Homo sapiens: one gene and its partners. The protein of the gene in region 3 interacts with the protein of the main gene of each other region in a biochemical or structural test. Each region holds a gene or a part of one and is shown on either strand. Other genes may lie near its edges.

Region 1 (7,742 bases), on a different chromosome or scaffold from region 3:
AGAGGACAGGAAGCAGGCACTGAGCTGAATGCCCACGCCTCACAGCTTCCTGCCCCACCTCAGCCCCTGGTGGGCACTTACATCATTGCCCTCTGTCTCAAAGAAGTCAAACTGCAGGGAGATGCGGTACTGGGTGGGGGCCACCAGCTGCCAGATGCAGTTCTTGTTGGGGGGGTACTCCTTGGGCCAGCCCGGGCTGGTGATGGAGCCGTTGAGCTTGGTGAGGAATCCGCCACAAGCAGCTGCGGGGACAAGGAAGGTGGCATCGTCTGCGGGGAGCCCCTGCCATGGGGAAGGGCTGAGATGTGGGCTGGGATGCAGTAAGGAGAAGATGGGGAGCCTGTGGACTCCCCAAGGCTCAGGGACCTGTGTCTGGTCCCTCTGGGGCGGACGGGAGGAGGCAGGGTGGCCTGGGTGTCCTCAGGGGTGGGCCTGTAGGGAGGAGTGGGGGAGCTAAGGGGTCATAAGTGTGGCCATTTCTATCTTCTCTGCAAATGAACAGGCCAAGGTCCTCCAAGAGGGAGTGAGCGGGAATAAGGGGCTCAGGGAAAGCAGTTCAGGGAGGGGCGGTCCTGGGAGGTGCAGGAAAGGGAGCAGCTCGGGGGCACAGCAGGATCGGCCTAGTGAGCTGGAGCCATTAGCCTCGGAGTGCTGTCCCCAGCATCTCGGGACCATGCGTGGAGAGGCGGAAACAGTGTCTGTCCCACAACAGGGGTTTCCCAACCTGTAGATCATAACACCCTGGTGGGTGGTGATATCAGTTAGCAAGTCAAGATGGTCATTTACAAAAAAAACCCGAAAACACCCCAAGAATGAAAAAACAAAACAAACCCAAAGCCAGAATGCGGCCTACGGGGGGACAGTGTGTTCTCGGGGTTGCAATGTGACATGTGTTTCTTATCCATGAGCTATGAAAAGAGTGTTGGGGTATCCATCTAGCTTTTCCAAGAAGGGGTCTGTCCAAGGGCATAAGAAATCTTGGCAGTGACTCAAGCCTGTGATCCCAGCACTTTGGGAGGCCGAGGCAGGAGGAGTACTTGAGGCCAGGAGTTTGAGACAAGCCTCGGCAACAAAGTAAGACCTCATTGCTACAAAAAAAATTTTAAAATTAGCCAGGCAAGGTGATGTGCACCTGTAGTCCCAGCTACTTGGGAGGCTGAGGTGGGAGGATTGCTTGAGCCCAGGAATGGGAGGCTATGGTGAGCTAAGATTGAGCCACTGTACTTCCAGCCTGGGTGACAGAGCAAAAGCCTGTCTAAAAAAAAAAAAAATTCTGGGCAGGTGGGCTGGTGCCAGGGAAAGAACAGGGTCAGAGGCAGTCTGGGGGCACTCACCCTCACAGCGGCGCTTGTCTGGGGCCAGCTCGTACCCGGGGTCACAGCTGCACTTGTAGCTGCCCAGGGTGTTGAGGCACCGCTGCTCACAGCCCCCGCGGTTGGGCCGAGAGCACTCGTCCACCTCTGTGGTGGGAAGGAAAGGGTGTCACAGACTCCAGGCATTCAAGGGAAGAAGCTGGCTGTGAGCCTCACTTGTCCACTCAGCCCCAAGACCCACCCAGCTCCCCGATGGCTGGAACCCCACAGAGCCTTCCTTCAGAGCACATGGACTGGGCTGGTGTCTCTCACGTGCTGTTCCCTGACTAAGGACCCCTCTTTCATTTCTCCTTCAATCCTCATGTGAAGCCTGTGGCGGAGGGACTGTTACTGTGCCCATTTTACAGATGAGAAACTGAGGTTCAGGGAGAATATCCTGCCCAAGGTCACACAGGTAAAAAAAACCTCCAACTGCCTTTTTTCCTCCCTGAATCATACAGCAGGTCCTGCCTCTAATCCACATTGGGGGACCTCTTCTCCCCAGCTAGCCCAGAGCTCCTTAAGGGCACAGCCCTGGGGTCTCACTGGTATCAATATGCCTCCTGGAGTCTCCGTGTTGAATGAGTGAGTGAAGAAGGGATGAAGGTCACGAGGCACCTTGGGGCAGGGGAGAGTAACAGAGGAGGCACCTTTGAAAAAGTTGACGGCAAAGCCCGCTTTGTTAATGGACCCGTCAGAGACGAACTTGAGCCAGAGGCGGCTGGACGTGCTCTTGATGTCATCAGGCTTCTCATAGCCACAGTAGCGCCCGATGAGGGTGCTGCTCTCACTGTGCCCGTCGCGCACCTCCAGATAGTCGTAGGCACAGCTGTCGTGGCGCTCAATCTAGGGGTCGAGGCTTCATCAGTGGAAGGGGCTCTGGCTGCCAGAGACCCACCCCTGGGAGCCCAAAGAGAGGCAGCTGTCCCAGGGAGCAACTGCTGGATTCAAAGGTCAGATCACAGGGCCACTGACCTACCTCAAAGGACTGGAATGTGAGGCCCACGTGGAAGCCCTCAGACACCTGGATCCGCCAGATGCAGACTTTGCTGGGCCGGTAATCGTCTGGGTAGTTGGGCGATTGAATGTGGCCATAGTCCTTTTTCACATCACCCCCGCAGATGGCTGTGGGGACACAGGATGGGGTGGGAAGGGGTGGTGAGTCAGCATGCTTTGCCCTGCTAGGGAGCTCTTTTCCCCACTCCTCCAGTCCCTCCCATGTCCCCCAGCTTTTCAGTTCCCCACCAAACCCCCAGTCCCAGGCAATCCCATCATTCTCTCTGCTTCTTCCCTTGGGAACCCACAATCTTGCCCCTCAGGTGCCAGGAGGGAGTTGTTTTACCATGCCCAGAGACCTCCTATCTGACTCCTCCCGCCCGCCGCCTTCCTCAGTACCTTCGTAGACTGCAAAGAAGCCCTTTCCAACCCAATTGCTGCTGCTGCGGAATTCAACCCAGAGGCGGCTGTCAGTGGAGACGATAGGCTCAGGGAGTTTGGACCCGCAGAAGCGGCCTGCACAGACAGTGTGGATGGAAGAGTGGTGAACCCTGAGGACACCCCCTATAGAGGCCCCACCTCTCCAGGAGGCTTGGGTGCTTGGGCCCTGATCTGTGGCCACCCTACTTCACACATTCCCAAGACTGTATACCCTCTGGTTGGCTTCTGTCTGGTCCAAGGTCCAACTTGGCTTTGGAGAGCCAGAGACCACTTGAGGGATAGGATATGAGTCTATTTCTAGGAGGAAAGGTAGATCTTTATTTTTCATTTTATCTTATTTTATTTTTTTGAGATGGAGTCTCGCTCTGTCACCCAGGCTGGAGTGCAGTGGCACGCTCTTGGCTCACTGCAACCTCTGCCTCCTGGGTTCAAGCAATTCTCCTGCCTCAGCCTCCCAAGTAGCCGGGGCTACAGGCATCTGCCACCACACCCAGCTAATTTTCGTATTTTTAGTAGAGATGAGGTTTTGCCATGTTGGCCAGGCTGGTGTCGAACTCCTGACCTCAGGTGATCCACCCACCTTGGCCTCCCAGAGTTCTGGGATTTCAGGTGTGAGCCACCGTGCCTGGCCAAGGTAGATCTTTATAATGTCCAACTATATATGTGTTCTATTTACCTTTCTAAAGAGCATATTACCATCATTATTTACCTTTTCTTATTTGGTCTCTATGCAAAGAAGAGACCAAATAAGAAATAAAATCAGAAATATAATCAGAAATAAACATGGCTTTCTTTACACATTACAAACTGCCCTCACAGACATGTTTTTATTTGGTCAAATGCAAGGGATGCCCCAGGACCCTAAATAAATCACAGAATCTGGGGACTAGCTCACAAAATGTCCACTTTGAAATAAAAATGAATAAGAATCAACATAAGTGAATGAGGTCGGCCATCTGTGGAATTCTTTGTAGTCAAGAATCAACTAGGAATGAGTTGTGTGTTCCTAATAAGGCCGGTGTTTCCCAACATTCAGCAAGGGACAGAGGGTGCTGGCCCAGGAATGTAAGTTATGAAAAAGAAACTCCCATCTTGGAAAAACACTAACACGTCTACGAGAGGAAGTGTTGTAAGGACAGCTGCTTTGAGTGACCAAAAAGAAATATTTAAATATCGGAAACTGGGGGGAAAATAGAGGTTAGCAATATCCGTCTGGCTGTTTTAGGCATAGGCTGAGGAGAAGAGGTTCTGTTGCCAAAGAGTGGTCCTGAGCTCCTTACGATCACGTCCAGCTAGGAGGAGATTCACACGGCTCCTCGGGCTTGCTGCAATACCCTCTAGGATCACCTGCCTCCCTTTGCCCTAATTCTAGGTTCATTAAAGCACCTTCTGTTCTGTGCTTCTGACCCACTTACTCCCACTGACTCACCTCCTGCCCCCTACCCTCCTCGGGACAAAGTATCCTATGCAGACAAGGTCGGGCCACGGCGCCCAGTGTGCAGCCCTCGGCAGTGAGTTAGGAGATGGGCTGGCAGGTTATGATGACTCTCTTTTGAGCCAGGCTGCACTGTGGGCACTCAAAAACCAGAAGGGCAGATAGAAAAAAATAGTGGATCCTCTGAAAGTGCCCAGATGAGGAAGAGAGCCTGGGGCCATGGGGATGCGCAGAACAGCCTGTCTGTCTCTCTCAGTCAATTCTGATGACTCCTTGCACCCGTAGGGTGACAGCCAACTTCACAGGGAGGCCCAGAAGTCTGGACTGGGTACTCTGAAGTCCAGATTGAGGACAGGACTTGCCTGAAGTCTCGCAGCAAGTGAGTAATGCAGCTATCTGGGACTAATGATGCCAGGACTCCTGGCTCCCATACCAGGTTGTCATCCCTGGCCAGTGTTGGGCCCTGGAGGGGGATGAAGAGTGTGATGAGGGTGGCTCAGAGAGGGAATCAGCATGGAGGGGGCAGGGGGTGGCTGGTGCCGTTACCTCGGAGGGGCGCCTTCCTCCAGAAGCCATCTCGGACCTCCACATAGTCGTACCAGCACAGGCGGCTGCGGTACAGGTCCAGGGACGTGAAGTTCAGGATGATCTAGGGCAACAGGGGAGGAAGAGGGTTAAGCTGTCCCGAACATTGCACCAGCCCTCTGCCAGCCCCATGATGACCACCGCCCGCCTTACGCGAGGCAGGTCCCCCTGGGCGAGAGTTAAGGGGCTCCCAAAAGGAGCTCCTGGCACAGAACCGCCCCTCCTCCACAGTTGTCTGTGTATGGTCAGCTTTCTTCCTAGAAGGCCCAGGAGGGGAAGGAGACGTCACTTTGGGTAGAACCCCTGGCTCCAGCTCTCTTCATAGTCAATTAGATAACACAACCCACAATATCTTCAAGAGGAACTGGTCTCTACAGTGGTAGGAAGGGCCAAGGGCCGCGTGAGGGTACTGGAGGGTCTGAAGTAGCGACGAAGGGTCCCAAGAGGAGAGGCAAGAGGAAAGAAGGGCTGAGTCGCCAATCATCACTTTTTTGTTTGTTTGTTTGTTTTGAGTCAGGGTCTTGCTTTGTCACCCAGGCTGGAGTGCAATGGTACAATCACAGCTCACTGCAGCCTCCACCTCCCAGGCTTAAGCCATCCTCCGATCTGAGCCTCCCAAAGTGCTGGGATTACAGGAGTGCGTCACTGTGCCCGGCCCCATCATCATTTATTGAGTACTGATTCTGGGCAGGGGGACACACTAACTGCTGAAAGGACACCAGATCTGAATCCGTCCCTGTCCTCAAGAAGCTCCAGGCTTAGGGAGGGATGAGACATACGCGTGAGAAAGCTCAGACCCCAGTCACAACAGCCTGGGTGTGAATCTCCACTCTGCATTTCCTGCTGTGAGTCATCAAGCAAACCACGCAACCTCTGAGCCTCTGCTATGTCCTGCGTGCAATGGGGAGAAGAGTCCCTACCCTGACATCACACTTCCAAGGCACAGGCACTGTCTGTCCTGAGCACCTCATTTCAGGCTCCAAGCTCAGGAAACGCTCGCTCGCTACTGGAGGAATGTTACATCTTGGTAAGTACCAATCCTCCTTAGCAGGTGGGCATTTTAACAGGTAGAGAGTTTAATGGCTTCCCTCCACTTCCGGGGGGAAACCACTTCCTCGGTAGGTCCCAGAGTGGGCCCAAAGCCTGCTGTGTATTCAGAGTTCCAACAAGTAGGGATTCCAGGGATGTGTTCACCGTGACCTGCGAGGCCAGTGCAGCGGACACTCGATGGTTTCAGGGGTGTCCTGCTCTGGGAGAGCTGGGTTCTCTGCTAGAGAAGGGGACCGTCTGCCTCCCTTGTACCTTCTTAGAGAGTTAGAGGCAGAGTGGAGGCCAGGATGAAAAAGATTCCAAGGTGGGCACTGGCAGTGGCTGTCTGTAGCCAGCATCAATGCTAGTCGGGGAGGAGCTCCTGGCTCCTGGTCACTCTGACACGGGCCCTATCAGAATACCTGGTGATTCCAATGTCCGCCTAGAGGACCCTTCCCACTTCTTGGCCGCTCAGTTCTGCGACCTCCTCTCTCCACCTCTCTATACCTTCCCGGCCACACACCAACACGTCACGCCGTGCAGGCCGGCTTCATCGAAAATTGTCTGCCCCTCCATAATCTCAGTTTCAAGGGCCCCACTCTCCATTCAGTTTCCAGCCTTTCCGTCAGTTCTCATCACTGCGACTTTCAACCCACTGCACCCAGGGCAATGCCACTGCCGGTCACCCCCATCTACTCTCTCTCCTTACCCAGCTTAGCTCCACAGCCCATCCTTTTTCTTCTATTCTTTTTAAAAATTCATATATGAGTTTAACTATATTTATTTGGGGGACCTTTTATTAATTGTGGTATTCTGTGATATAATTGAGTAAGATCATGTTTTTGAAAAGCACACTACAGGCCAAGCGCGGTAGTTCACTCCTGTAATCCCAACACATTGGGAGGCCAAGGCAGGTGGATCACTTGAGGTCAGGCGTTCAAGACCAGCCTGGCCAACATGGTGAAACCTCATCTCTACTAAAAATACAAAAAAAAATTAGCCAGGTGTGATGGTGGGCATCTGTAATCCTAGCTACTCAGGAGGCTGAGGCAGGAGAATCGCTTGAACCTGGGAGGCAGAGGTTGCAGTGAGCCTAGATCATGCCACTGCACTCCAGCCTGGGTGACAGAGGAAGACTCTGTCTCGAAAAAAATATAAAATAAAATAAAGAAAAGCACACTATATATTACTCTTGGTTATTATTATCATCATCAAAAGTTATTGTTACTATTATAAGTCCTGGCATTTTGAAACTCTGAAGATGCAAGTCCATTCTAGCTCTTGCGAGGGAGTAGATGGCATCTCATTACCAAATGTGGACCAGGCATGGTAGCTCATACCTGTAACTGAGCATTTTGAGAGGCTGAGGCAAGAGGATCGCTTGAGTCCAGGAGTTTGAGACCAGCCTGGGCAACACAGTGAGACCCCCATCTCTAGAAAAATTAAAAAATTAGCCAGCTATGGTGGCATGTGTCTGTAGTTCCAGCTACCAGGAAGGCTGAAGTGGGAGGATCCCCAGAGCCTAGGAGGCTGAGGCTTCAGTGAGCCGGGATTGCACTGGCTCACTGAATGGAAATTTGGTTTTATTATTTATATTATATATTATATAATATATAAGATATGTGTGTGTGTGTGTGTGTGTGTGTGTGTATCTCCATCAATAGAGACCTCAGGGGGCAACTGAATAATTAAATTGAGAGAAATCAAGACGATAGTATTCTAAGCAGCCATAAAAATGACTGAGTGCTGGCATGGAACGGCGACCACAATTCATTGCTGAGTGCAAGGTATGTTGCAAAAGACCATATACGTGTGCATACAATTCCTTTTTGTCTTGTATATATATACATACATATATACTCATCCATGCTTACATGCACATATATACCTAGAAGGGTCTGGAA
Region 2 (7,742 bases), on a different chromosome or scaffold from region 3:
AATTTAAAAATTTTAAAAATTAGCTGAGTGTGGTGGCACATACCTGTAGTCCTAGCTACTCAGGAGGCTGAGGCAGGAGGATCGTGTTGGCCCAGGAGTTCAAGGCTGCAGTGAGCTATGATAGAGCAACTGCACTCCAGTCTGGGCAACAGAATGAGACTCTCGTCTAAAACAAACACACACACACAAAAAAGAGCACTGGTTTTCAATAGGTATTTCCCCAAAGATATACAATAAGCTAACCAGACATGGTGGTGCATGCCTATAGTCCCAGCTACTTGGGAGACTGAGGTGGGAGGATTGCTTGAGTCCAGGAGGTTGAGGTTGCTGTTAGCCGTGATTGCACCACTGCACTCCAGCCTGGGTGACAGAGCAAGATCCTCTCTCAAAAAAAAAAAAAAATACATACATACACACACACACACACACACACACACACACATGCATTCACTAAGCACATAAAAAGATGCTCAACATCATTAGCTATTAGGGAAATGCAAATCATAACCACTCCACAAAGGTGCTACAATAAAAAGGAAAGATAAGTGTTGGTGAGGCTATAGGGAAACTAGAACTCTCATACACAACTGGTAGGAATGTAAAATAGTGCAGCCACTTTAGAATAAACACTTCAGCAGTTCCTCAAAATGTTAAACACAGAGTTGCCATATGGCCCAGCAATTCTACTCCTAGGTATATACAAAAGAAAAATTAAGAGATACATCCAGGGTTGTCTGTAGCAGCTCACACCTGTAACCCCAGAACTTTGTGGGGCCAAGGCAGGAGGATCGTTTGAGGACAAGAGTTCAAGACCAACCTGGGCAACATAATAAGATCCTGTCTCCACACACAAAAAATTTTTTTAATTAGCCAGGTATGGTGGCACACACCTGTAGTGCTAGCTACTTGGGAGGCCAAGGTGAGAGGATCGTTTGAGCCCAGGAGTTCAAGGTTACAGTGAACAATGATTGCACCACTGCCTGTGTGCACAGGCAGTAAACAAACCTGTGTAACACAGTTTATCTCTTAAAAAACAAACAAAGATACATCCACACACTGAAACTTGAATATTCATAGCAGTATTATCTACCATAGCCAAAAATATAAGTAACTCAAATATCCTCCAACCAATAAATGGATAAATAAAATGTGGTATGCCCATTCAGCAGAATATTATTTGACCAAGGAATGAAATACTGAATATGTTACAACACACAGGAACCATGAAAACATTATGCTCAATGAAAGAAGTCAGACACAAAAGACAAGGTATGATTCCATTCATATTAAATGTCCAGAACAAGCATGTAGAGAGAAAGTAAACTGCCTAGGGTTTGTGGGGAGAGAGAATAGGAAATGACTTCTAAAGGGTATGGAGTTCCCTTCTAAAGTAATGAAAATGTTCTGAAATTAGATTGTGGTGATGGTTGCACAAGTCTGTCGATATGCCAAAACCACTCAATTGTACCCTTAAATGGGTAAATTTTATAATATATGAATCATATATCTCAATAAAACTGTTTTTTAAAAAAAATCTAACAGAGAATCCATCTTAGATTTATACTAATAAGAGTTCCAGAAAGAAAAGAGGACACTATACATAATTATATATTATACAAAAATATAGTTATATAAAACGTATATATTATATATGTATGTATGTTAGGACAAGATATATATATATATATATATATATATATATATATATATATATATATATATAACAAAAAACAAAACAGGGCATTTCCTAGTCTTTGGCTCAAAACTGATCCCCAAAAGACTCACAAGATACCAAACAGAATGAATGAAAAGACCAACACTAGACTCAACAGTTTAAATTCCATAATATGAAGGCTAATGAGATGATACTAAAAGTTTCTAGAGAGAATAACAAAGTTACCTATAGAGAATAAGAAACAGACTGGCATCAGACTTCTTATTGGCAATATGGAATGCTATTAGATAATAGAGAAATGTCTCCAAAGTTCTGAGGGAAAAGAATTTAACATAGAATTCTGTATTCAGGCAAACCATCAGTCAGGTGAAAGGTGAGAATAAATACATCTTCAAGACATGCAGGACCCAGAAAGCTTACTTTCCACACAGGCTTTCTTAGGAAGTTACTTGAGGGCATGTTGGGACAAAATAAGGGTTACTGTTAAAAACAACAAGATACGAAATCCAAGAAACACTGGAACCAACTTGGGAAAGTAATGATGGAAAGTCACCATAAGACAGCTTGCATCAGACCTAGATTGCAATCAGTTAAGTCTGGAAACATCAAGACTGAAGGCTCCATTTGGGAGGAAAAATACATTAAGTACTTAAAACAATATAAGGTGCTAATGATTGATGATACAAGGTAAAGAAAGATAATTAGAAACTCAAGAAAAACAAAATCATTCAAGAAGGGAAATGTAATCATAGTACCTATGTGACTACAGTCAACAGTCAACAATATTTATATAATCATTACAATATAAACATGGTTTATTGCCAGTTTTAGAATATACCTGTAAATAAAGCATTAGAAGATTCAAATAGAGTTACAAAACAGAGAAATAAGGTTAGTAATTACCTATAGTGCACTCACGTGCCAGGCATTGCTCTAAATACTTTACACCTAATCCTCACAATACTCGCACAGTATGGTTATTATCCCTGCTTTACAGATGAGGAAATTGAGGCATTGAGAGATTAACTAACTTGCCCAAGGTCATACAACCAGTAAGTGGCAGAACTGGATCCAAATTCAGATAGCCTGGTTCCAGAGTTCATACGCTTAACCATTATACTATGCAGCCTCTCAGAATGTAGATGTTATCAACCTTGACAATATAAAAGTAAAAGTACAGGTAACACTCCGTTCCCCACAGATTTTGATGCAGCCCATCAGAATTCCAAAAGTAGCCCATCAGAATGCCAAAAGTAGAAAATTTCAAGGGCAGTACTCATAAATGCAAGGGAAAAAACTGATTTCTTTGCTTTCTATGATGTTAAACATGGTAGCTTCACATGATCTCCCAAGACTGGAACCCAAACAAACCCTCTCTTCAATTCCCTCAAGAAATGCACTGTTCTTAAAACTCACTTATAGTCTGTCTCATTGCTAAAAAAAAAAAATAATAAAATAAAATAAACTTTAAAAGGAAAGGACTATTAATATTCTCCACTTACATCAGGAATAAAGAGATAGTGTCTCCAGTTGATAGAACAGAATAGAAAACCTTAAATATATTGAAGAAATTGAAAAAATAACCAAGAGATAAACTCAAAACTGTGATACAAGTGTGGCAGGGCAGGAGTGGGAAGGATGACATGATGAGCTATGACCTTATCTGTTATAGCAGAAAGGCAATTTTAGATATATAACATCTAAAACTGATGAATCAAGAAATAGTAGTACAAGCATATTATTTAGGCATATGGCTAAAAATTACTAACAGAAGTAAAAATATAAGAGTTAGATTAAAAGCGGTTTTCCCAGGGTAATAGAATGAGTAGGGAGAATTAGATCAAGAGATTCAATTTTTCACTATGTAGCCTTCTAATAATTTAATAATTTATTACTCTGATGAAAAAAAGAGAACATTTGACACATACTAGTTGGTTTCTTTCTTTAAAACTGCCTAGAACTAGAAGAAAATTTTGAGCTCACCTAGCCAGCCAATTCACTTTACAGTTTATATGTGGCAGAGTGTATTTTCCACAGATGGCCACACCATTATATCCCATCCACATGTTCAGCTTACAACATGACACTGTCACTCCTCCAACAGAGGTGGGGCCTATGTTCCCTCCACTTAAATCCAGGTGGACCTGCAGGAGAGATCATATAGCAGGATCACAGAGACACACACATATATACACAGAGAGAGTGAAAGGGAGAGAGGGAGGGAGATGGGGATAGAGAAGGGAGGAAGGGGAGGAGAAGTCAGGAAGAGACGTATACCTGAAGAATCTTCCCAGCCCAGGTATTAGACTTTATCAGTGAGCCTTCAGATTTTCAATGTCCAATACGTGGCCACTAGTCATATGCAGCTATGCAGCTAATGAAATTGAAATTGAATTAAATTTAAAATCAGATTTTCAGCCATACTAGTCACATTTCAAGTACTTGGTAGCCACGTATGGCTAGATTCTACTGTATTGCACAGGGTAGATGTAGATCTTTTCCATCATCGCAGAAAGCTCTATCTATAGTGCTGTTTCAGATAATTCCACCCCCACCACCTTCAAGCCGCCTTGCTAATGCCACGTGGAACAGAGATGAACTCTTCCGCAGAGCCCTGCTCAGAATGCAAATTCGTGAGCAAAATAAATGCTGTTTCCAGCCACTGGTTTTTGGGGTGGTTTGCCACACAGCCATAGTAAGAGGAACACATGGAAACTAAAGATCAGAATGTGAAATAATCTGCTAGAGTTTGGGAGTCCACAAAACTAGGTGAAGAGTGGAACTAATCACATTTCATTTCAACACTCAATAAATGTTTGTGAATAAACAAACAAGAAAATCCTCAATATTTGAGCCCTAGATCTTTTCTTTTTTTTTTTTTTTTTTTTTTTGAAATGGAGTCTTGCTCTGTCGCCCAGGCTGGAGTGCAGTGGCATGATCTTGGCTCACTGCAAGCTCCGCCTCCTGGGTTCACGCCATTCTCCTGCCTCAGCCTCCCGAGTAGCTGGGACTACAGGCGCCCATCACCACGCCTGGCTAATTTTTCGTATTTTTAGTAGAGACGGGGTTTCACCATGTTAGCCAGGATGGTCTTGATCTCCTGACCTTGTGATCCGCCCGCCTCGGCCTTCTGAAGTGCTGGGATTACAGGCTTGAGCCACCGCGCCCGGCCCAGCCCTAGATCTTTTCTAAATCCAAGTAGTCTACCATCCACCAGGATAGTTGTGTCCACTACTCCAGAAAAAAGTTTGATGTTTCCTGGCTCTGAAGCTACAACGGAATATCAGAAATGTCAGCATCCATGAATTTGTGACTGAAAATACGTCCTAGCTGATTTTGTTTACTAGAATCACCATTTGAGTTAGGTGAAGCTCCATTTGCTTTTCCAGTTTTTTTACACTGATATAGTACTCTTTACATTTTGAAGTATTTTGTTTTTTTACAATTTTTTTTTTTGAGACAGAGTCTTGCTCTGTCGCCCAGGTGGGAGTGCAGTCGCACGATCTCAGCTCACTGCAACCTCCGCCTCCTGGGTTCAAGTGATTCTCCTGCCTCAGCCTCCCAAGTAGCTGGGATTACAAGCATGCACCGCCATGCTCAGCTAATTTTTGTAATTGTAATTTTTTAAATTTTTTTAATGGCCAGGCACGGTGACTCACACCTGTAATCCCAGCACTTGGGAGGCCGAGGTGGCAGATTGCTTGAGCTCAGAAGGTTGAGACCAGCCTTGGCAGATCGCTTGAGCTCAGAAGTTTGAGACCAGCCTTGGCAACATGGCAAAACCCTGTCTCTACCAAAAATACAAAGTAAATTAGCCAGGCATGGTGCCACGTGCCTGTAGTCCCAGCTACACCAGAGGCTGAGATGGGAGGATCGCTGGAGCCTGGGAAGTCAAGGCTGTAGTAAGCTGTAATAGAGCCAAAAAATTTTTAAAGAGTCAAACAAACAAAAAAACCTTTACAAGTATCTACCCATATTAATCAAAAGCTTTCTCTTTTAAATACTCCCTTTAAAAGCAAGGTATTTTAAATAAAGTACAATTTTTTTTTTTTTTGAGACAGGGTCTTGCTCTGTCACCCAGGCTTCAGTGCAGTGGCACAATCATAGCTCACTGCAGCCTCAACCTCCTGGGCTCAAATGATCCTCCTGCCTCAGCCTCCCAAGTAGCTGAGACTACAGGTGTACATGATCATGCCCAGCTAATTTTAAAAAAACTATTTGTTGTAGAGACAGGGTCTCACTGTGATTCCCAGGCTGGTCTGAAACTCCTGGGCTCAAGTGATCCTCCTGCCTCAATCTCTCAAAGTGCTGGGATTACGAGGCATGAGCCACTGTGCATGGCCAAAGTACAATTTTTAATTACTTGAACTAATGCAAGTTATAGAGTTGAAGAGTCAAGAATATAATTTGGAATTTAAGAGAATTTCCATCTAAACATGAATACAGCAAATGTTATGAGACTTTATTGTGAATAATGAATAATGAAGCTACATTGAAACAATCTGGGAGGTACCACAGACTCCTCATCTGACCATAGCACAAAACTGGGCTTCATTTGCAGACACAAAGTTTCCAGCCAACACAAGCCTAAGCAGGCGTGCCTTATTAAGATTTCCACATACAAAATTAGGTGATTAAAGAATTAGTGTTAATTTTTAAACTGTAAAATTGGTCTAATAGCTATGTTGGTAAAGAGTTCTCTTTTAGAGATACATATTAGAATTATCAACAAAACAGTATCAAGGGATTTGCTTGAAATTAAAACAGCTGGGAGTGAATAATGTAGGAGGGTATAGATAAAATAAGAGTAGCCATGAGGTAGTGACTGCAGTAACTACTCATGGATGGTTCATTATATTCTTCTCCTTTTATACCTGAAAATGTCCACAGCGAAAAAGTTAAAAACTGAACAGCAAACACACTTCTCTAGTTAAATGTTTTGGTTTGAAATGCAAAGTTAGGGTTATCAGAGTACGAAATGGGGGCAAGTAGAATTCCAACTATTAGCGAGAAGGACCAAAATGTCAGAAATAAGCACAAAATGCTTCTGATGTATAAAAACAATTGTCACTCTAGCACATATACACAATTACTCTCAAGTGAGGGTTACAGTCATGTTAGCTGACTCATACTTTACATAGAATGCTAATGTGTGTGGCTACTGAATTTCTGAGTGCACAGCCTGCAACTAGAAAGGAAGCTAATCAGGAGTTCAATACGAGCCTGTTAACTTAGCCACATTACTTCCTCTTACTTTTCTCCCCAGAAAAATGAGAGTGGTGGCTACATTAAGAGGCCTGCCTTGATGATTGGAAGAGATATAACTTCGAAGTATCTTGAAAGCAGATTGTCCAATCCCAGCCAACAACTTGCCTGCAACATTGTGGGAGACCCTAAGCCACAGCCACCTGGCTAAACTGCTCCCAGATTCCAGGCCCTCAGAAACTGCATGAAATAATACATGTTTATTGCACTAAGTTGCTATGTTTTGGGGTAATTTGTTACATAGCAATGGACAACTAATACATCATACTTAGGGTAACAATTTATCTATTATTTGACCAGCTAATTTTTTTTCTAAATACATTCATTGAACCTCTTTGCTATGTTAATTAGATTACACAGATTAAATCATCTGAATAGAGTGCTCATCACCTTGTAATGACATGTTTATACAACAGGATATTATACTCAGTATTGAACTTCTTGAATCTAACCTTGCCTATATATATTGATTGCTATGAGGGTAAAAATCCAGACCTGTGTGTCATGATTCAGTACCTCAGGCCCTGACCCAATACTCAGGTCTTACTCTATATGATATATGCACTCTATATCTGTATATAAACATAATGTTTCTGCTCTACAATATATTTTGATATTAATAAAAGTACTCTTAGTCCTACCTGAATGAGGCATTTGCTCACATCACTAGCACAGAGTGCTTTGTTACAGCTCAGTGATTCTGGAAGCCATGTCAGGAACATCAGGATGGCTAGAGTAAGCACAGCAACATAGTGTAACTTCATGTTTCTTCAAAGAAGATGATCAGTAACTCCCAGGAAAC
Region 3 (8,125 bases):
AAAAAAAAAAAAAAAAAAAAGTCAAATGAATAAATGAATGAGTGGGAGAACCCATGAGTGAGTGGATGATAATGAACATCCCTGCTCATCCAACCTGGCTTCCCACAGCCCATGCATTGGGCCCTGGGGTCCAGCTCCACCTGGAGCCCTCACCGTGTGTCCTCCTGGCTGGAGTCCAGCCATGTGGCACAGGACAGTGCGCTGATCCCTCCGCTGAGGCTTGGTCTCCAGTGTCATGGCCACCACCTCACTGCTTGTCCCTACCACTTGCACCTGATGGGCAGGGATGGAGGAGGGCAAAGTGGAGAGGCAGTAAAGGCCTGGGGCCTGCTGCCCACGCCACCCCTCCCCCACCTTCTGCAGCCCCTGGCTCTTACCTGATAGATCAGGGAGCCATTTCCTAGCAGCGTGAGGCTGGCTGAGCCGGCAGCACCCGTCTGGACTGGGATCAGGGCATCAGCCCCACAAAGGACACTTTGCAGGACTACGGAGGGGCAAGACAGGTGAGGCTAGGTTTACCCCATGGCCGCTTACACCCCCAGTCCACAGGATCTCTCCCACACCCACCCTGGCACTTGTCTGTGTCTCTCAGTTGTGCATGCCCGGCGCACCAGGCCCCCCCCCCGCCTCACCGTCGCAGCTCTTCCTGGCAGCAATGTGTCCACTGATGCGCAGCCCTGGCCTGCCTGCCCACTCCAGGGCCATCTGCAGCTCCCCCAGCACCAGCCAGTCCATCTCCTGGACTGTCAGGTTGGGCAGCACCTCAGCAAAGCCTGGTTCCTGGGGACAGAGCAGGGTGTGATGGGCAATAGCAAGAGGCCAAGACAGGTGGCAGCGAGAGCCAGATCCCCACTCACCTGGGCTGAGACATTGGCCTGAAGTTCTCGCAGTAGCTGCCCCTGGTGTAGAATCTGGAGCCTCAAGGGAACCTGGGTTAGTCCTGCAAGGCCGCACATGTGGGCCTTTCTGAGACAGGTGCTCTCCCTAACCTTCTCACGTGTTTTGCCCCCATCCCACTTACCCCCACTCCTGGGTTCCAGCAGCCCTCGGAAGAGCAGCAAAAAATGCAAGGAGTCCTCTGTGTCACTGAGAGTGAGCAGGGTGATGCCCCCTACGCCCTGCTGTGGGGGGCCTTCTAGAGTCAGGATGGCACTGAAGGTCTCTGGGGAAGGGACGATGATGAGAGCCCGTCAGAAACCCTCCCCCCCTTTCCTGGGTGATAGAGAAGACTCAGAACTTCACGCCCGGGGCTCTTTGCTCCCTACCTGCAGCCAGGGCCCGGTGCCGGATGAGAGGCCCCCAGACCTCCCCTGAAGGGTGAGTGAGTGTCACAAGTGCCACATGCAGCTGTTCTGCCCTAAGGAGCCGCAGAGACAACCGAGGCACTGCCCGCCACACCCCACAGACCTGGAGCAGAGAGACAAGAAGGCCCTACGCTCAGACACTGTGCAGGCTAGGCCAATTAGGATGCCCAGGCAGGGCTTATGAAAAAGGAACATGGAAAGGAACCTCCAGGGTGCCCTAGGAAGCTTAAGAAAGAACGCTGGAGCCAGATGCTTGGGTTCCAATCCTGGCTGCACCACTTACTAGCTGTGTGACCTTGAACAAATCACATTATCCTACTGAGCCTCAGTTCCCCCTTCTGTAAAATGGGCATCATAATGTCAGTGCCTTCCTCCCACTGGGCTGTGGTGAGGACCACGGGAGGCAATGCAGAGCATGCTCTCGGCACAGTGCCCAGACTGGGCAAGTGCTCATAAATGGCATCATCTCACCAGGCCATCTTGGGTGGGGGCTGCAGGGTGCTCAAACAGGACACTGCCATTGGAGTCTGAGAAGCGGATCCTGGTAGGGCGGTCCAGCCTGGGAATGAGAGGTCGGGTGAGGCCGGACTGAGCCAAAAGCAGCCCCTCCCAGCTCTCCCAGTTTCCCTCCCGGGCCCCGGCAGCTGACCCCTCCTTGCTCCTTCCCCTTTCTCACCGCCTGTAGGAGATAGAGAAGCGGAGGCTAGAGCGCAGCAGCGAGACTCGGGCTCGTGCCACCGCCTGCGACCTCGGCCCTGTCAGCAGCGCCACGAAGTCTGGGACGGGAGGAAGATGGCCTGAGCACTGTCAAACGCCGCTTTGGTGGCCCAGCCTCAACCACAACCCCGCTGTTCGCCAGCCCCCTACCCGTGTGGCCGTCACCACGGGCCCGCTCCTCAGCGCCTGGCTCCCCGCGGTCGCTATAACTGCGATGCTCCGGGTCCCGCGGATACTCGAAGGACAGGCCGCTCGGCTGCCGCTCCGAACTGCTGCGCTCTGCGGGCGGGGGGGTAAGAACACGGGCTTCAGCTGGCCATGGGAAAGGCCAGTCCGACGCCCCATCCAAGTGGCCCGGGACCTAGTATCGTGGCCCTGCCTCCCTCCCCGCAGGGCGGAGCAAGACTTACCCTGGGGGCAGGTCTGGCAGCAGTGTCCCGGCAGCTGGCGCGGCTGCCCACAGGCCGGGGTTGGGCACTCTGGTTTGATGTTCTTGCAGCTGACCCTGCCAGGGCCCCTGGTACGGCGACCCCACTGAGGCTGCTCCCGGAAAAGGCGGGAAACCCAAGTGAGTGCAAGATGCCAACTGATGAGACCCCCCCAGGCAAGGATGTCCCGCAGAGTCAGCCAGCTCTGCCACTTACAAGCTGCGTGACCCTAGACAAGCTACTTCATCTCTCTGGGCCTCAAGGTCCCTGTCTGGAAAATGGGGATAATAATACTCTCTATCTAGCAAGGCTGCCATGAGAGTTAGATGAGCAGGGAACGAAACGGAGTTGGCACAGAGCCTCACACAGAGTGGGCGATCAGTAACAGCACCTAAGAATTGGAGGGGCTGATTCCCCTTCCTCCACCAGAAAAATATCCCCAACATCTGCCGACTGGGCTCCTTCTCAGCAGCTCCGAGTCCACTCCGACGCCCGCGCGACCCGGCGCTCCCCACCCGCCAGGGCCCGGGCCGGCCGCGGGGTGCACTCACCGCCTCGCAGGCGCACAGCACGCAGCGCATCACCCCGAATGGCTCCCCTAGGTCCGGGTGCCACGTCTCGTCCAAGGCATAGACCTTCCCGCCGAAGGTGCAGCCTGCGGGGACGGGCTTGGCTGGAGGCCGCTGCCCAGCTCGCGCCGTGTGCCGCCCCGGGGGCTGCCCGCGGGTCCCGGGTCCCAGGCACCGCGCCCTTCTGCCCCCGCCCACCCTCCGGGCCGCCCGCCGCGCCGAGCCACCTGCGCCCCGCGCCCCCTCCGGGCTGGCGCTGACTCGCCCCGAGCCCGACTCCCCGCCCGCGCCTCCCCCGGGCGCCCACCTACCTGCCGCTCCCCGAACGGGCAGCGGCTCCTTCTCAGAACGGATGGGCAGCACGGGGGGCTCTGGGCCGGCGCCGCGGGCCGGCCGGGAGCCGAGCAGCAGCAGCCCGAGGAGCAGCAGCGGGGCCGGCGGGGCCGGGAGGCTCGGCATGACGCGAACGGGACAGCTGGGGAGGAGGGAGGGAGGAGGGCGCGGGAGCGGGCGGAGGGAGGGAGGCGGGAGTGCGGAGGGCGGAGGGCCGGGCCGGGGGCGGTGCGGCGGGAGGGGGCCGGGGCCGGGGCCGGGGCCGGGGCAGTGCCGCGAGGGGCTCGTCGGGCGGCCGCAGAGTCGGCGCCGGGCCGGGCGGGGCGGGAGGAGCGGCCGGGAGGAGCGCGGGCGGGCGGGCGCTGACCCGGGCCGTACGCGGCTCTACTGCCCCGGGCGCCGGCTCCGGCCCGTTTTATGCCCCGCGCCCGACGCCCCGGCCGGGGGCCTCCTCCTCAGCAAACGGGGCGGCGGCGGCAGCTCGGCGAGGGGCCGGGCTGAGCCCGGGGGGTCCGACCCAGCAGCAGCGGCCCGGATCGCGGGTGGGGGAGGGGAGGGAGGGGCTGGGACCGGGCAGGGGAGGAGGGAGGGGCGGGAGGGGAAGGGGGAGCGGGGGAGGGGGAGGGGAGGGACCAGGGGGCGCGAAGAGGGGGAGGAGAGGCGGGCCCGGAGCCCCCCGCTGCTGGCGGCCACAGGGCGGCTGGACCAGGAGGTCGGTGTCCAGCCCAGGAAGGGAGCCTCAGGCTAGGGAGGGGCAGAGGCTAGGCCTGAGGCCTGGACCGCTCTGTGAGCGAGGACCCGGTTCCGCCCGAAGGATGAAGACTTGTCTTTAAAGATGACAACGTACAGGAAAGGTCCATCAGCCGATCTCCCCCTGCCTGGGCCCACAGCGCCCCCCAAACCCTCACCACCCTCTCTCACTGCCTAGCCTGCCTCCCTACCTTCTCTCTGAGGTCGCTCCTCATTCTTGTGTTACCCAGGACAGGGACCTAGCCAGAAACCGGCAGCATTCCCCCTTCTGTGGAGTGACAGTATCTCCCTCTCATTGTAACTTATCCTCAGGCGCATTCGACAGTCCCCTCTTGCTTTCTCACCCCCTTCCTTCACCCAAGGGACCCTCTGCCTCTCCAGCCCACTCCCAGCCTCCTTTCTCTTGGTTCCCTGGTCATGCCTGCCTCCCTGTCTCCTGTCTCTCCCTCCCACACACACCCACTATCCTCCCAGCTATCCCAGCACCCTCCTTCCTAATCTTGGGAGACATCTCGTCTGGCTGGACGGGAAAATTCCAGGATCTAGGCCACACTTCTCAGCAGACATGCCCATCCTTGGGGAGGAGGAACAGGAGAGAGCCTGAGGAAGTTCTGGGGGACAGGGGGATGATGGGATCAAGGTCAGGCCAGGAAGCCCCTGAGGACAGAGACTGTGGGGAGACTGGGACTGGGAAGAAAGCAAAGGAGCTAGAGCCAGGGCCAAAGGAAAAGGGGGGCCAGCAGGGAGGTATTTGCGGGGGAGGTCCAGCAGCTGTCTTTCCTAAGACAGGGACACATGGGCCTGGTTATTCCTCTTGTCACATGTGGAACGGTAGGAGATGGAAGACGGAGACAGAACAAGCAAAGGAGGGCCCTGGGCACAGAGGTCTGTGTGTGTAGCCATCTAAGCCACTGGACCCCAGCAGACGAGCACCTAAGCTCAGGCTTAACCCAGTGCACGTGTGCGCACATACATGTGCCCCGCACCTGACAGTCCACTCAACCCGTCCAAACCCTTTCCCCATAACACCAACCCATAACAGGAGATTTCTCTCATGTGGGCAATATCCGTGTTCCCACTTCGAAAGGGGGAATGACAAGATAGGACTCCCTAGGGGATTACAGAAAGAAAAGCAGGAAAGCAAGCATCCTGTTGGATTTCAGCAGCAGGTATGATGTCCAGGGAAAAGAAATTTGGATAGCCAGGGAGTGAAAACCCCACCAATCTTAAACAAGACCTCTGTGCTTCTTCCCCAGCAACACAAATGTCCTGCCAGATTCCTCCTGGAAAAAAACTTCTGCTCCTGTCCCCCTCCAGGTCCCAGGTTGCCCATGTCCAGGAAAAGATGGATCCCCCTATCCAAATCTTCTCCGTGGTGTGTGTGGGTGGAGGAGTGGACCCTGGTCCAGGCAGGGGCTCCAGGGAAGAGAAGGCGTCACTTCCGGGGGCCTTCACCAGTGTCTGGTGGCTCCCTTCTCTGATTGGGCAGAAGTGGCCCAGGCAGGCGTATGACCTGCTGCTGTGGAGGGGCTGTGCCCCACCGCCACATGTCTTCCTACCCATCTGCTCCCCAGAGGGCTGCCTGCTGTGCACTTGGGTCCTGGAGCCCTTCTCCACCCGGTGAGTGGCCAGCAGGGTGTGGGGTTATGTGAGGGTAGAAAGGACAGCAAAGAGAAATGGGCTCCCAGCTGGGGGAGGGGCAGGCAAACTGGAACCTACAGGCACTGACCTTTGTCGAGAAGAGTGTAGCCTTCCCAGAATGGGAGGAGCAGGGCAGAGCAGGGGTAGGGGGTGGGGTGCTGGTTTCTGAGGGACTGATCACTTACTTGGTGGAATACAGCACAGCCCTGGCTGGCCCTAAGGAAAGGGGACATGAGCCCAGGGAGAAAATAAGAGAGGGAGCTGCACTTAGGGCTTAGCAAACACAGTAGTAAGATGGACACAGCCCCAATCCCCATTCTTAGCTGGTCATTCCTCGTTAGCTTAAGGTTCTGAATCTGGTGCTGGGGAAGCTGGGCCAGGCAAGCCAGGGCGCAAGGAGAGGGTAATGGGAGGAGGGCCCACTCATGTTGACAGACCTACAGGAAATCCCAATATTGAATCAGGTGCAAGCCTCTTTGCACAACTTGTGAAAGGAGGAGGAAGCCATGTGGGGGGTCCTGTGAAGGAACCGGAAGGGGTTCTGCCAAGGGGGCAGGGAGGCAGGTGTGAGCTATGAGACAGATATGTTAGTGGGCGCCTAAGACAAGGTAAGCCCCTAAGGTGGGCATCACCCAGCAGGTGCCCGTTCCTGGGCAGCTGGTCTCAGGAAGGAAGTCCCAGAACTGTTAGCCCATCTCTTGGCCTCAGATAATGGAGTATTTCAGGACTTGGAGTCCAGAGAAAAGCTCCAGTGGCTTTATGTGTGGGGGTAGATAGGGAAAGAATAGAGGTTAATTTCTCCCATACCGCCTTTTAATCCTGACCTCTAGTGGTCCCAGTTACAGCTTTGTGCAGTTCCCCTCCCCAGCCCCACTCCCCACCGCAGAAGTTACCCCTCAACATATTGCGCCCGTTTGCCAGTTCCTCACCCAGGCCCTGCATCCCATTTTCCACTCTCTTCTCCAGGCTGAAGCCACAATACTTTCCTTCTCTATCCCCATCCCAGATTTTCTCTGACCTAACAACCAAGGTTGCTCAGAATTTAAGGCTAATTAAGATATGTGTGTATACATATCATGTCCTGCTGCTCTCAGCAGGGGTAGGTGGCACCAAATCCATGTCCGATTCACTGAGGAGTCCTGACAAAAAGGAGACACCATATGCTTTCTTGCTTTCTTTCTTTCTTTCTTTCTTTCTTTTTTTTTTTTGAGACGGAGTTTCACTCTTATTGCCCAGGCTGGAGTGCAATGGTGCGATCTCGGCTCACCACAACCTCCGCCTCCCAGGTACAAGCGATTCTCCTGTCTCAGCCTCCCAAGTAGCTTGGATTACAGGCATGAACCACCACACCCTGCTAGTTTTTTTGTATTTCGTAGAGCCGGGGTTTCACCATGTTAGTGAGGCTGGTGGCGAACTCCTGACCTCAGGTGATCCACCCGCCTTGGACTCCCAAAGTGCTGGGATTACAGGCATGAGCCACTGCACCCGGCACACCATATGCTTTCATCACAAGAAAATGTGAGAGAATTCAGGGCTTTGGCAGTTCCAGGCTGGTCAGCATCTCAAGCCCTCCCCAGCATCTGTTCACCCTGCCAGGCAGTCTCTTCCTAGAAACTTGGTTAAATGTTCACTCTTCTTGCTACTTTCAGGATAGATTCTTCACCCTTGGCCCGCCTTTGCCCCACCCTACTCTGCCCAGAAGTGCAAGAGCCTAAGCCGCCTCCATGGCCCCAGGAAGGATTCAGGGGAGAGGCCCCAAACAGGGAGCCACGCCAGCCAGACACCCCGGCCAGAATGGAGCTGACTGGTGAGAACACACCTGAGGGGCTAGGGCCATATGGAAACATGACAGAAGGGGAGAGAGAAAGGAGACACGCTGCAGGGGGCAGGAAGCTGGGGGAACCCATTCTCCCAAAAATAAGGGGTCTGAGGGGTGGATTCCCTGGGTTTCAGGTCTGGGTCCTGAATGGGAATTCCTGGAATACCAGCTGACAATGATTTCCTCCTCATCTTTCAACCTCACCTCTCCTCATCTAAGAATTGCTCCTCGTGGTCATGCTTCTCCTAACTGCAAGGCTAACGCTGTCCAGCCCGGCTCCTCCTGCTTGTGACCTCCGAGTCCTCAGTAAACTGCTTCGTGACTCCCATGTCCTTCACAGCAGACTGGTGAGAACTCCCAACATTATCCCCTTTATCCGCGTAACTGGTAAGACACCCATACTCCCAGGAAGACACCATCACTTCCTCTAACTCCTTGACCCAATGACTATTCTTCCCATATTGTCCCCACCTACTGATCACACTCTCTGACAAGGATTATTCTTCACAATACAGCCCGCATTTAAAAGCTCTCGTCTAGAGATAGTACTCATGGAGGACTAGC

The links.
Region 1: of the proteins of CHRD (region 3) and BMP1, one has a biochemical effect on the other in vitro, tested with the Homo sapiens proteins (3 studies listed by BioGRID and IntAct).
Region 2: the proteins of CHRD (region 3) and TWSG1 form a complex in vitro, tested with the Homo sapiens proteins (one study listed by BioGRID).

What each region holds. Positions count from the first base shown.
Region 1 is NC_000008.11:22,189,180-22,196,921, reverse strand, and holds part of BMP1 (bone morphogenetic protein 1 isoform 3 precursor), read right to left. Parts: exon of another isoform or gene 7,503-7,742; intron 5,837-7,502; exon of another isoform or gene 5,327-5,836; intron 4,874-5,326; coding exon 4,771-4,873; intron 2,865-4,770; coding exon 2,748-2,864; intron 2,478-2,747; coding exon 2,332-2,477; intron 2,199-2,331; coding exon 2,003-2,198; intron 1,461-2,002; coding exon 1,335-1,460; intron 243-1,334; coding exon 82-242; intron 1-81. UniProt on the Homo sapiens protein: Metalloprotease that plays key roles in regulating the formation of the extracellular matrix (ECM) via processing of various precursor proteins into mature functional enzymes or structural proteins.
Region 2 is NC_000018.10:9,337,192-9,344,933, reverse strand, and holds part of TWSG1 (twisted gastrulation protein homolog 1 precursor), read right to left. Parts: intron 7,742-7,742; 5' UTR 7,705-7,741; coding exon 7,582-7,704; intron 1,924-7,581; exon of another isoform or gene 1,901-1,923; intron 1-1,900. UniProt on the Homo sapiens protein: May be involved in dorsoventral axis formation. Seems to antagonize BMP signaling by forming ternary complexes with CHRD and BMPs, thereby preventing BMPs from binding to their receptors.
Region 3 is NC_000003.12:184,375,671-184,383,795, reverse strand, and holds the start of CHRD (chordin isoform 1 precursor), read right to left. Parts: upstream 3,743-8,125; 5' UTR 3,478-3,742; coding exon 3,330-3,477; intron 3,105-3,329; coding exon 3,001-3,104; intron 2,721-3,000; exon of another isoform or gene 2,666-2,720; intron 2,562-2,665; coding exon 2,432-2,561; intron 2,301-2,431; coding exon 2,172-2,300; intron 2,081-2,171; coding exon 1,981-2,080; intron 1,864-1,980; coding exon 1,776-1,863; intron 1,408-1,775; coding exon 1,266-1,407; intron 1,163-1,265; coding exon 1,022-1,162; coding exon of another isoform or gene 941-1,021; coding exon 858-940; exon of another isoform or gene 781-857; coding exon 633-780; intron 485-632; coding exon 378-484; intron 274-377; coding exon 154-273; intron 1-153. Other genes in the region: THPO (thrombopoietin), read left to right, coding at 5,447-5,721, 7,392-7,549, 7,781-7,908. UniProt on the Homo sapiens protein: Dorsalizing factor. Key developmental protein that dorsalizes early vertebrate embryonic tissues by binding to ventralizing TGF-beta family bone morphogenetic proteins (BMPs) and sequestering them in latent complexes.